Linked DNA regions of Homo sapiens: region 1 is linked to region 2. The links come from fine-mapping of genetic effects on gene expression. A gene starts in region 2. The other region holds a variant in brackets. All regions are shown on one strand. Distances are between the middles of the regions. Region 1 holds the start of MIR6796 (microRNA 6796). Region 2 holds the start of PRX (periaxin).

What was found. PIP is the estimated chance that this variant, and not a neighbour inherited with it, causes the effect. A credible set is the group of variants that fine-mapping cannot tell apart.
Region 1: its variant is the best candidate, but not a certain one, in a credible set for the expression of PRX in Th2 cells (Schmiedel 2018, PIP 0.51).

What each region holds. Positions count from the first base shown.
Region 1 is chr19:40,367,959-40,373,326 of GRCh38, reverse strand. PLD3 (phospholipase D family member 3) reads right to left here. Exons shown (of 13, transcript NM_012268.4): 7 at 3,299-3,419; 8 at 3,090-3,217; 9 at 1,454-1,654. MIR6796 (microRNA 6796) reads right to left here and starts at 3,481; the gene lies at 3,420-3,481. RefSeq lists an enhancer at 1,251-1,545 and a silencer at 5,216-5,368. The variant G/A (reference allele first, on the strand shown) is at 2,370.
Region 2 is chr19:40,410,622-40,415,989 of GRCh38, reverse strand. It overlaps PRX (periaxin), which reads left to right and starts at 2,612. Exons shown (of 7, transcript NM_181882.3): 1 at 2,612-2,652. RefSeq lists enhancers at 1,154-1,802, 5,319-5,368.

The DNA of each region.
Region 1 (5,368 bases), 43 kb after region 2:
AGGATTACAGGCATGAGCCACTGTGCCTGGCCCCCCATCTTCCTTAATGCTCAAGAGACAAGGAAACTGAGGCTCTAAAAGGGGAAGTGGTAATGAGGAGAGCCTTGATCCCCTGCGGGAGGCCCTTGTAGTGAAAGACCCCAATGAGTCACACTTCCCTACGTCCACGCCTTAGGGTTGTGCCTTCCACGATGACTCTGGGCTTGGACAGGTAACTTGCTCAGGGGGACCTAGGGAGACCTGGGTTGCCTGCCTCAACTAGTGAAACTATCAAGAGCTAGAAACATCAGTGCCTTGTCCAGAGTGATCAGTATCTGCCATGGCGAGAGCCAGTGTTGTCCAACAGAGCCTGTCACAGTGATGGAAATGTCCAATATGGTGGTCACTTGCTACAGGTGCTACTGAGCATATGAAATGTGGCTACTGCATGAGGAACTGAATTTTTTCTTTTTTTGGAGACAGGGCAACAGCCTCTTGCCCAGGCTGGAGTGCAGTGGTACAATCAGCTCACGCAGCCTCAAACTCCTGGGCTCAAGTGATCCCCCTGTCTTAGCCTCCCCAGGGACTACAGGTGCACACAACCACACCCGGCTAATTTTAATTAATATTATGTTTTTGTAGAAATGGTGTCTCCCTAGTTCTTGGGTATCCTATCTAGAACAATAAATAATAAGACCAAAAAAAAAAAAAAAATAGAAAGAAATGATGTCTCCCTATGTTGCCCAGGCTGGTCATGAACTCCTGGCCTCAAGTGATCCTCCCATCTTGGCCTTGGCCTCCCAAAGTGCTGGGATTACAGGGATGAGAAACCATGCCTGGCTTGAAACAATTTTTTTTTGAAACAGGCTGTCACCCAGGCTGGAGTACAGTGGTGTGATCATGGCTCACTGCAGCCTAGATTTCCTGGGCTCAAGTGATCCCCCTGCCTCAGCCTCCTGCGTAGCTGTGACTACATGCATGCACAACCCAACCCAGCTAGTTTTGTTTGTTTGTTTGTTTGTTTGTAAAGATGGAGTCTTGCTATGTTGTCCAGGCTGGTCTCAAACTCCTGGCCTCAAGTGATCCTGTCACCTCAACCTCCCAAAGTATTGGGATTACAGGCATAAGCCACCCCACTTGGCCTGAATTGTTAATTGCATTTAATTAACTTAAACTGAAAGAGCCACCTGTGGCTATACTGGATGATATAGAGCACCAAAGGTTTGGTGTGCATGAACCCAGGGTACCTCTCCCAGCAGCCCTAACAGGTTGGAAACAATACCCATTTTCTAACTGAAATAGAGGCCGAGGGATGTTGGGAACTACTCCAGGCCCCTGACCAAGCAGAATGAGCTGGGGTGAGAACTGATGGTCAGGATACGCCCTCCCTGTCATCACCAAACAGGGACAGATGGAGGCTGTGAGTGACGGCATGGGGCTGGGACATGACAGGCCCCACTTGCCCCAGACTCACCGCCAGGTAGGCCAGAGCAGGGGTTCCATTGAGGCAGATCTCCATTGGTGTCTCTTGGTTGTAGCGGGTGTCATAGAACCGGGGCCAAGTTGATGGGATGGAGCTGCCTGCCTGGCCCAGGAACCAGTAGGCCTCAAAGATCTTGGTCAGGTCTCGAGCCAGGCAGCTGCAGTTGTACATGACCACGCCCAGCTCCTTGACCTGTAGGAGGGCAGTGCTGAGCTCAGCGATAGCGGCCTAGTGCTCACAGATGACAGGGACACTCCCCAGTCTGGTCTCTGTCTTTCCCCCTGTCCCACAGTACCCCCTCCACCCCAGCTCCAATAGCTAAAGTCCTAGAATGATTATCAACTTAAGTTTTGATGAAAATCAGTTATTCCAAAGCTCCAGGTTTCCTGAACGTTTGCAATCTGCTGTTGCTTCTACCCTCCACTGAGCTAGCTTCTACTCATTCTTAGGTCTAGGCTGACATGTTGCCTCCTTCAGGAAGCCTCCCATGACTACCCAGCCTGCACCAGGCATTCCTCTGGGCTCTCACAGTCCCTTGGGATTCCCTCCTCATTCTTTCTGGTGACAAACTGGTCTTCCCATTGGGCTGGGAGGACAGGCACTAGGGATGTCTCAGTCACAGCTATATCTACAGCATCTCCCTGCATAATTGCTGAGATTAAAGGTTAGGGGAACTATCTGTTGAGGAAATGAATTCATGAGTTATTGTCCTGTCTTATCTTCACCTCATTGCCCAAGCTGTTTCCTGTTCCATCTTGCGCTAATTCCTCCCTATCCTTCAGGGATCAGATTAGTTATACCTCCTTTGGGAAACCCTCCAATGCCCCAGGTTGGGGTCTCTGAGCTTCCACAGCCCTCTGTTCCCTCCATCCTGGCCCTGACCCTCTGCCTGTGTCTCCCCAACCCC[G/A]GCCCTGACCCCTCTGGGCTGTCACTGTCAGGTGACAGGCCAGTCTGCATTGGGCTGGGAGTTCCATGAGGTCCATCTGTTACCACCATGTTCCCAACATTACCCAGGATAGGGCTGGACTTAGAGCAGGCACACAGAGATGTACAATGAAGATCAAATGGGTGCGCAGGTTCTTGAATGCCATGTAGAGGGGCTGGTAGCTGCAATTGGGGATCAGAGGGAGCCCCAGGCTTCCAGGAGCAGGGGGAGGGCAGTAGAGGGCTCCATTTAGGGATTCTTTGTTTTGTAACAGGGTCTCACTCTGTCACTCAGGCTGGAGTGCAGTGGCATGAATACAACCCACTGTAGCCTCAAACTCCTGGGCTCAAGTGATCCTCCCACCTCAGTCTCCCAAGGAGCTGGGACCAGAGGTGTGTGCCACCACACCGGGCTTATTTTTTTTTTTTTGGTAGAGATGGGGTCTCACTATGTTGCCCAGGCTGGTCTCCAACTCCTGGGCTCAAGCAATCCTCCCACCTTGGCCTCCCAAAGTGTTGAGATTATAGGTGTGAGCCACCGTGCATGGCTTGGATTAGGGAGGCCTGGTAGGAGGCAAGAAGGAAGCCATTACAGAGAATGGGTGGAGAGGACTCTGGATTGAGTGAGGGATGCAGTCGGAGGCTGGGTGCCCTGTGGGGCAGGGAGTGGCCTGGAAGGAAGGTAGACAGGGTGCAGACAGACCTGGGTCAGTGAACGCCAGTCCATGTTGGCACTGCCCAGGTAGAAGTGGGTCTGGTCCACCACCCAGAACTTGGTATGCAGGACGCCATGGGTCAGCTTCTGCATGTCCACCATGCGGACCTGGGCACCTGTGACCAGCAGGGGCAGAGATCAGGGGCCAGGCTGGGTACCCCCAGGCCCAGACCAGCCCCAGTTGGGCCCCAGCTCACCGCTCTGCAGCAGAGCCTGCAGGTCCGCCTGTGGCTGGGGCCCGCTGGGCTTGCTCACAGCGATGCGGACGTTCACGCCCTTTGGTGCCAGGGTCTGCAGCTGCCGGAGGACCTCCTCACCCTGCGGGGAGGGGAGAGCTTCTGAGGGGCTGGACCAGCCAGCTCTCCAACCCCACAAGGTAATGCCCGGTGGAGTTATTTTGAGACATGATTAGGAGTAAACAGACTTTACATTAGCCTGCATAGATTAAAGACTTTACAGATTAAAATATTAAAAGACTTCCTTATCTGTTTTAAACATCTTTATCTGCTTTAATAATTAGTTGCCCTGTGATCCCCCTCCAAGTCCTCCTGACCCCTCCTGCCCCTCCAGGGACTTTCTCAAAATTCAGCATCAAGGCAGGGCCTCCAGGCATCTCCCAGTATGGTGGGGGCGAGGCTCAGGCAGGGGGTCCTGGAAGGTATCGGGTGAGGCACGATGATGCCAACAACAGCAACAGTCAAGGATGCCCTGGAACCTACTGTGTGCCAGGCCCTGTTCTAGGCCTCTTCTCAGCGAACTCACTGAATTCTCACAACCCAGTGAGGCTGGTTTAATTATAATCCCCACAGAGAACTCAGTAGTGGAGTGGGATTTTGTTTTTGTTTTTTTGTTTGTTTGTTTGTTGAGACAGGGACTTGCTATGTTGCCCAGGCTGATCTTCAATCCCTGGGCTCAAGCATTCCGCCTGCCTCAGTCTCCCAAGTAGCTAGTACCTCAGGAGTGCACCACCACATCCAGCTATGGAGCAGGATTTGAACCCAGACCATCTGCCTCCTACATCTGTGTTTTAAACCACTTTAGAGGGAGCCAGCAGGGAGTGGGAGCTCATACGGTTTTTTAACATAAAAAAATTTTTTTTTAGAGACAGGGTTTCACTATGTTGCCCAGGCTAGAGTGCAGTGGCATGATCACAGCTCACTGCAGCCTCCAATTCCTAGGCTCAAGTCATTCTCCTGCTTCAGCCTCCCAAGTAGCTGGGACCACAGGTGTGTACCACTATGCCTGGCTTTGGTTTTTAACTTTTGTAATTATTATTATTACTTTTTCTTTTTCTTTTTTTTGAGACAGGGTCTTGCTATGTTGCCTGGGCTGGAGTGTAGTGGCATGATCACGGCTCGCTGCAGCCTCCAACTCCTGGGCTCAAGCCATCCTCCTCCTTCCATCTCCTGAGTATCTGAGACTGCAGGCATGCACCACAACACCCTCCTAATTTTTTTTTATTTTTAGTAGAGATGGTTGAGGGGAGGTGGGGGGCGGGTCTCACTATGTTGCTCAGGCTAGTCTCGAACTCTTGGGCTCCAGTGATCCTCCTGTCTAGGCCTCCCAAAGTGCTGGGATTACAGGTGTGAATCACCACACTTGGCCATAATTATTTTTTTCAGGCAGTTCTTAAGGAGCCTTGTAATTTTAGTTAAGTTTTAAGACAACTTCTCACAAAAAGAGCCAGTAGGGAGAAGAAAACAGAAGGAACAAATTCATGGTTTTTCAATGGAAGAGGTTATCCATGTAGGCTGTTCCTTTTCAAATTGTGAAGCTTTTATGTTCTTTAAGTTTGTCTGCAGACCATACCAGGATATATAGTAACAGCAGACTCACAAAGGCTGACTCTGTGCCAGGCACTGTGCTAAAATTTGCATGGATTAGTCCATTTCATCCTCACAAGAGCCCTAAGAAGCAGGTGCTATAAATTGGCCCCATTTTACAGATAAAGAAACTGAAGCTGGAGAGAAGAGGTGGCCTGCCTGGGGTCACACAGCTGGGAGGTGGCCCCTGTCTTGAGGCTGGGCTGTTAATTACTCCACTCTTCCCTTTCTTTGTGTGACTGGGTCAGGACAGCTTGTGGGTGAGTGACATCTGCCAGCCTAATAATCCCTTGTAACCAAACCCGCACCCTGACATTCAGAGGCCTACAGATGACCGTGACAAACGCCCCCAGTCCAGAGAGCCACGTGACGACAGCTGCTTGCAAACACCTGTGTCCAATCTGCTGTGTGAGACACACCCCTCTGTCTCCTGGGCTGCAGGAG
Region 2 (5,368 bases):
CCCTCCTTGATTTCTCTTCCTAGGCTGGGGCAGCCACCTTTTCTGGACTTCCCCATCAAGGCTTTGACCTCTCTGCCTATGATTGCCCCATCACAACCCTCCTCTTTCTGGGTTTGTTCCCTGCTGGACTGTGAATGGTGTGGATGCAGGCCTGAGCTGTCCCAGTCACACTGTGTCCCCAGCACCATCCAGCCTGGGACTGGACAGAAGACCAGGTGCTCACTGAATGTTTGCTGATGGTGAATGAAGACCCGCTCCATTTCTCACCTCTGGTCCTTTGCCCACATTTGTCCCTCTGCCTGGAACCCCCTTCCCTCCTTTTTTCCTTAGCTCCCTCCTCCTCAATCTTCCATTTTGACTTCCTTTTATTATTTATTATTATTTTCTTTTTGAGACAGAGTCTCGCTCTGTCACCCAGGCTGGAGTGCAATGGCGCAATCTTGCCTCACTGTAACCTCTGCCTCCTGGGTTTAAGCAATTCTCCTGCTCAGCCTCCCGAGTAGCTGGGATCACAGGTGCCCGCCACCACGCCTGGCTAATTCAGTTTGACTGCCGATATCACCTCCTGCAGGATCCTTTCCTGAGTTTGCCGCCTCCTCCCTGGGGTGGAGTTAGATCTGTTGATGTCCCCTGTGCCCAGCAAAAGACCTACCACTAAACAGGGCTTGTGAGTGTTTGTTGAATGAATATAGGAACAAAAGAATGTTTGCGTGAATCAATGAAGGAGAGAGACTGCAATGAAGTGAGGGTCTCCTCAGGCCCATCGGGAGCCCCGACCATACCATCCCTTCTACCCCTCCTGGGAGGAGGGCTCTGGCTGGCTTCTGGCCACACCCCAATGCTTGGTTGCTGCCAGGCCTGGAAGGCATTTCCCAGAGCTCAGCACATTCCTGCCTTCCCCGGTGGCTGAGAGTGGGCAGGGGGCATTTCAGAGAGAAGGGAGGGAGGCCCCCAGCATTCCGGGATCCTGCCATCCTGGCCTGGTCCCCCACGCCCTCTGAAGTAGGCCCCAACCCTCTGGTGTGAGATGGGGGACAGGTCTGCAGAGGGGCCACCCAGGCTGGTGTGAGGGGCGAGGGTGCCGACAGAGGCCAGGGCTTGGTGTCTGTGCCTGGCTGGACAATGGGGCAGAAGCTGCTGACATGCGCTTTGGGGGTAATCCCCCAGCCTCAGCCCAGCCCAGGCCTGGGGCCTGGGTTCAGAGAGCGACGAGCTTCCGAGGCAGCAGCCGGGTGGGTTCAAGTGGCATGTGGGGGTACCTGTGCTCCCTGTGCCGCCCCCCGGGGTCTGGTGAGTCAGGGCAGGCTGGGGGCTGGACCAGGGTCCAGGGGTTGGGGGTGAGGCCTGGTAGCTTTGGCTTGGGAGTCGGGCAGGTCTGGGTTCAACTCTGGACCCCTGCCAATGACCTGCTATGGTGATATTGGGAGAGTCACTTACCTTCTCTGAGCCTTCTGGTCTGCAAAGTGGAAGGGGCAGAAGAGTGTAGCAGGGTTTTTGTGGTCCAGGAGAACAGGGGTTGGACCTCAGCTTCACCACCTCCTGGCCACATAGCTATAAATTGGGCATAGCTGGACGCGGTGGCTCACGCCTGTAATCCCAGAACTTTGGGAGGCCGAAGTGGGAAGATCGCTTGAGCCCAGGAGTTCGAGACCAGCCTGGGCAACATGGTGAAACTTTGCCATTACAAAAAATACAAAAATTAGCTGGGCATGATGATGCATACCTGTGGTCCCAGCTATTTGAGGGGGCTCAGTCGGGAGGATTGCTTGAGCCCAGGAGGTGGAGGCTGCAGTGAGCCATGATCACACCACTGCACTCCAGCCTGGGCAACAGAGTGAGACCTTGTCTCAAAAAAAAGGGTGGGGAGCATAAGGAGCCCATTTTACACCCTTGATTCAAAAGCAGGGCTTCAGCACTGAGCATGGTACTTAGTATGTGATAGGTGTCCCCCTAAACAGTAACTCCATTAGACAGAGAACTGGGGGTCCCCTGTGCCCAGCCTTACTGAAAAGGGGCCAAAACCCCCCAGCAAGATGAGCCAGCCACCTAATTTGTGTGAAAAATAATACCAAATACTTATTAGTAACCCTCATTATGTGCCCGGCATTGTCTTACATTTTCAGTCTCTTTTAACTCGTTTAATCTTCACCACAGCCCCATAAGGTGGGTACTCTTACTATCCGCAAAGAGAAGCTGTGACTGGCAGCAGGTCACCCAGCGAGGAAGTGGTCGCGCTGCGATTTGAACCCAAGTTGACAGGGAGAGGGAGTGAAAGGAGTTTACAGTAGAGGCAGTTGGCCAGGCCCGGGTCCTGGAGCCAGGAAACAGTGGGGCTGGGGTGGGGTCCTGATTCTCCAAGTCGAGGAAGCCAACGTGCAAATCCTTGAAGCTGAGCTCATGGCAGAGATCTCGGCCCAGGCAAGAGAGAGGCGGCTGGTGGCTGTCCCGTGGCCCCCACCCCTTGGGGATAGATGTAGCTGGAGGAGGGGGATGTTTGTTTCTCCACCACCCACCCTCTGGTGACGTCACACCCCCGCAGCCAATGGCTGGGGTCTCTCTCTCCTCCCCCCTCCCCATTCCTTTTCCCCCCCAGCCTAGGGCTAGGGCTGACAGACGGGACCAGGAGCTCTCGAGGTGTCTGGAGGCTCAGCGGTAAGAGATCAGCCGGCCGGTCCCTTCCCTGGCCAGGCTGAGACACTGTGGGAATGAGGTTCAGGGTCCCGGGAGGTGCTGGGAGGGGGCCTGGGGGCTCAGGAAGCCGTGTGGTGTAGGTGTTAAAGGTATAGACTTTGGAGCTGGTGGTTCAAATCCCCTTTCCTCTCCTTTCTGGCTGTGCAGCCTTGGGCAAGATACTTCATCCTTTGTGCCTCTGTTTCCCCATCTCTAAAATGGGCTGATGTCTGGAGGCCACCTCACAGGGCTGGTGCCGAGTAAATGAGTTGCTGCTTTTAAAGAGCTAGGGCAGCCAGGCATGGTGGCTCATGCCTATAATCCCAGCACTTTGGGAGGCTGAGGCGGCAGGACTGCTTAAGCCCAGGAGTTCGAGACCAGCCTGGGCCACATAGAGAGGCCCCCATCTCTACAAAACAAAAAAAAATTTTTTTTAATTAGCTGGGCATGGTGGTGCATGCCTGTGGTTCCAGCTACTCTGGAGGCTGAGATGGGAGATTGGGTTGGGCCCAGGAGGTTGGGGCTGCAGTGAGCCGTGATCACACCTCTGCACTCCAGTCTCAGTGACAGAGGGAGACCCTGTCTCCAAAAAACAAACTAACAAACACCAGAGCTGGGGCAGGAGGCCTGGGGTGGGTCCCTGGAGTAGGGTGCTAGGGAGGCAGCATGGATCCTGTTGGGAGGCTGGTGCCTGAGCTGGGTTTTGTCTCTCAGCCAAAGCTCCCCTTTGGTAGCAGAGAAAGTGGGGGCCACTGAGGAGCAAAGGTTGGATGTGCAACACTGTGAGAAGCACAGCTCCCTCCCTCCATACTCTCCCTGTTGCTGTCAGAGACGAGTTTATATTAATCAAGCATTTACTATACAGGAGGGATATTCTAAGCACCTGCTGTTCTCTCACAAATCTTCAAAGCCTTTCTTATTGGCTCCATTTTACAGATGGAGAAACTGAGGCCCCAGAGATGAAGGATCTTGCCCAAGTCCTCACACCTGGGAAGTGCTGGAGCAGGGACTAACCGAGGCAGCCAGAGGCCACTGCCTTAACTCCCCCTGACCCCCTAGGTGGCCTCAGATAATGTTTAGAGGTCTGGATGAGTCAGCCCAACCCCTGACCCCCATTGCTATGAGAGATCACGCTGGTGGCGGGGGAAAGCTGAGGCTCTGAGCAGGCAGGGTTCCCAAGTGAAGTTGGTGGCAGTCACCAGGGAAAGAGGGCCAGAAGGGCAATGCCCTCAGCCGATCCCTCAGCAGCCTCCGAATGACAACCCCTCGCTCCCAGCTGCTCTGAAGGGCATAAGTCGCATCTGAAATGGATATCTCAGTTGTACCCACTCCAGGGAGATGTTACAAAGATTTAAGGAGCCAAGACAGGAAGGATCTTAGCACACAGTAGGTGCTCAAGAAATGGGGACCCTGGGGATTCTGAAAGTTCTGGCATATGCCAGGGTCATGCCACAGTAACTACCCAAGAAATAGGCTGCTGGCATCTGGAGTGTCTGCCTGGTCCCAGTGGATCTGCCTCTAACACAAGGCAGGGACCCTCCCCAGGAGCCTCCCCACCCCTCTTTCCCCTGCCTAGTGGGATAGGCAGAGCTGGGAACACAGAGTCCTCTCTGTGGGTTTCCTTCCGAAGCTGCCCCCACCTTACCCCAGGGGCTGGGTACGTGGCTCAGGAAGAGCACAGTTGGGCTAAATATAACCTGGGCTGGGTGCCTGTCCAGGCAGGGACGAAGAAGGAGGGCACTCTCTCTTGTCCCTGCCCCGCCTGAACTTCCTGTGCCAGGCTCCGGGCATGACCCTCACAGCCACGGGCCTGGGACAGAGAGCTGATGACCCAGGAGACCCCCTCTACTACCACCTACAAGGTTCAGGCTTCTCGTGTCCCCAGCTCAGGACTCTGTGCTGTGTATCAGTCCTGGGTAAGGGAACTGAGTTCGCTTTCACACCTGGGCTCAAGTCTCGACTCTGTCACTGTGATCACCGGTCTCTTAACTCTCATTGACTCATCAGTTAAATGGGGTCCCACAAGGTCAAGTATGTAAAGCGCCTGCCCGGTCCAGGCCCGGCACCTGGCCTGGGTGTGTTTCTAGCACCGTTGGCCCCCTCCTGCCCAACCCAGCTCCTGCCCCAGTGCGCAGAGCCACCAATGCAAATTAAGGTGAAGCAGGGGTGAAGGGCAGGCACGGGTCCTAGCTCTGCCCCTTTCTGGCTGGGTGACCCCTCTGTGAGCCTCAGTTTCCACCCCATAACAGCCACAACATCTAGGGTGATTTTGAGGCCTGTGGGTGCTAGCACAGGGCCCAATTCAGAGGAAATGCCCCAGACATGGCAGACAAGGTCTTAGTGCAGGGACCAGCTAATATTAATACTAACCACTCAATACCCATCAGTTGTTATTATGATTGTCCAGCTAAAGCGCTGGAGCTTTTTTTATTTTTATTTTTATTTTTTTGAGATGGAGTCTCGCTCTATCGCACAGGCTGGAGTGCAGTGGTGCATTCTCAGCTCACCACAACCTCCGCTTCCCAGGCTGAAGCGATTCTCCTGCCTCAGCCTCCCGAGTAGCTGGGATTACAGGCGCGCGCTGCCACGCCTGGCTAATTTTAGTATTTTTAGTAGAAACGGGGTTTCACCATATTGGCCAGACTGGTCTCGAACCCCTGACCTCGTGATCCACCCACCTCGGCCTCCTAAAGTGTTG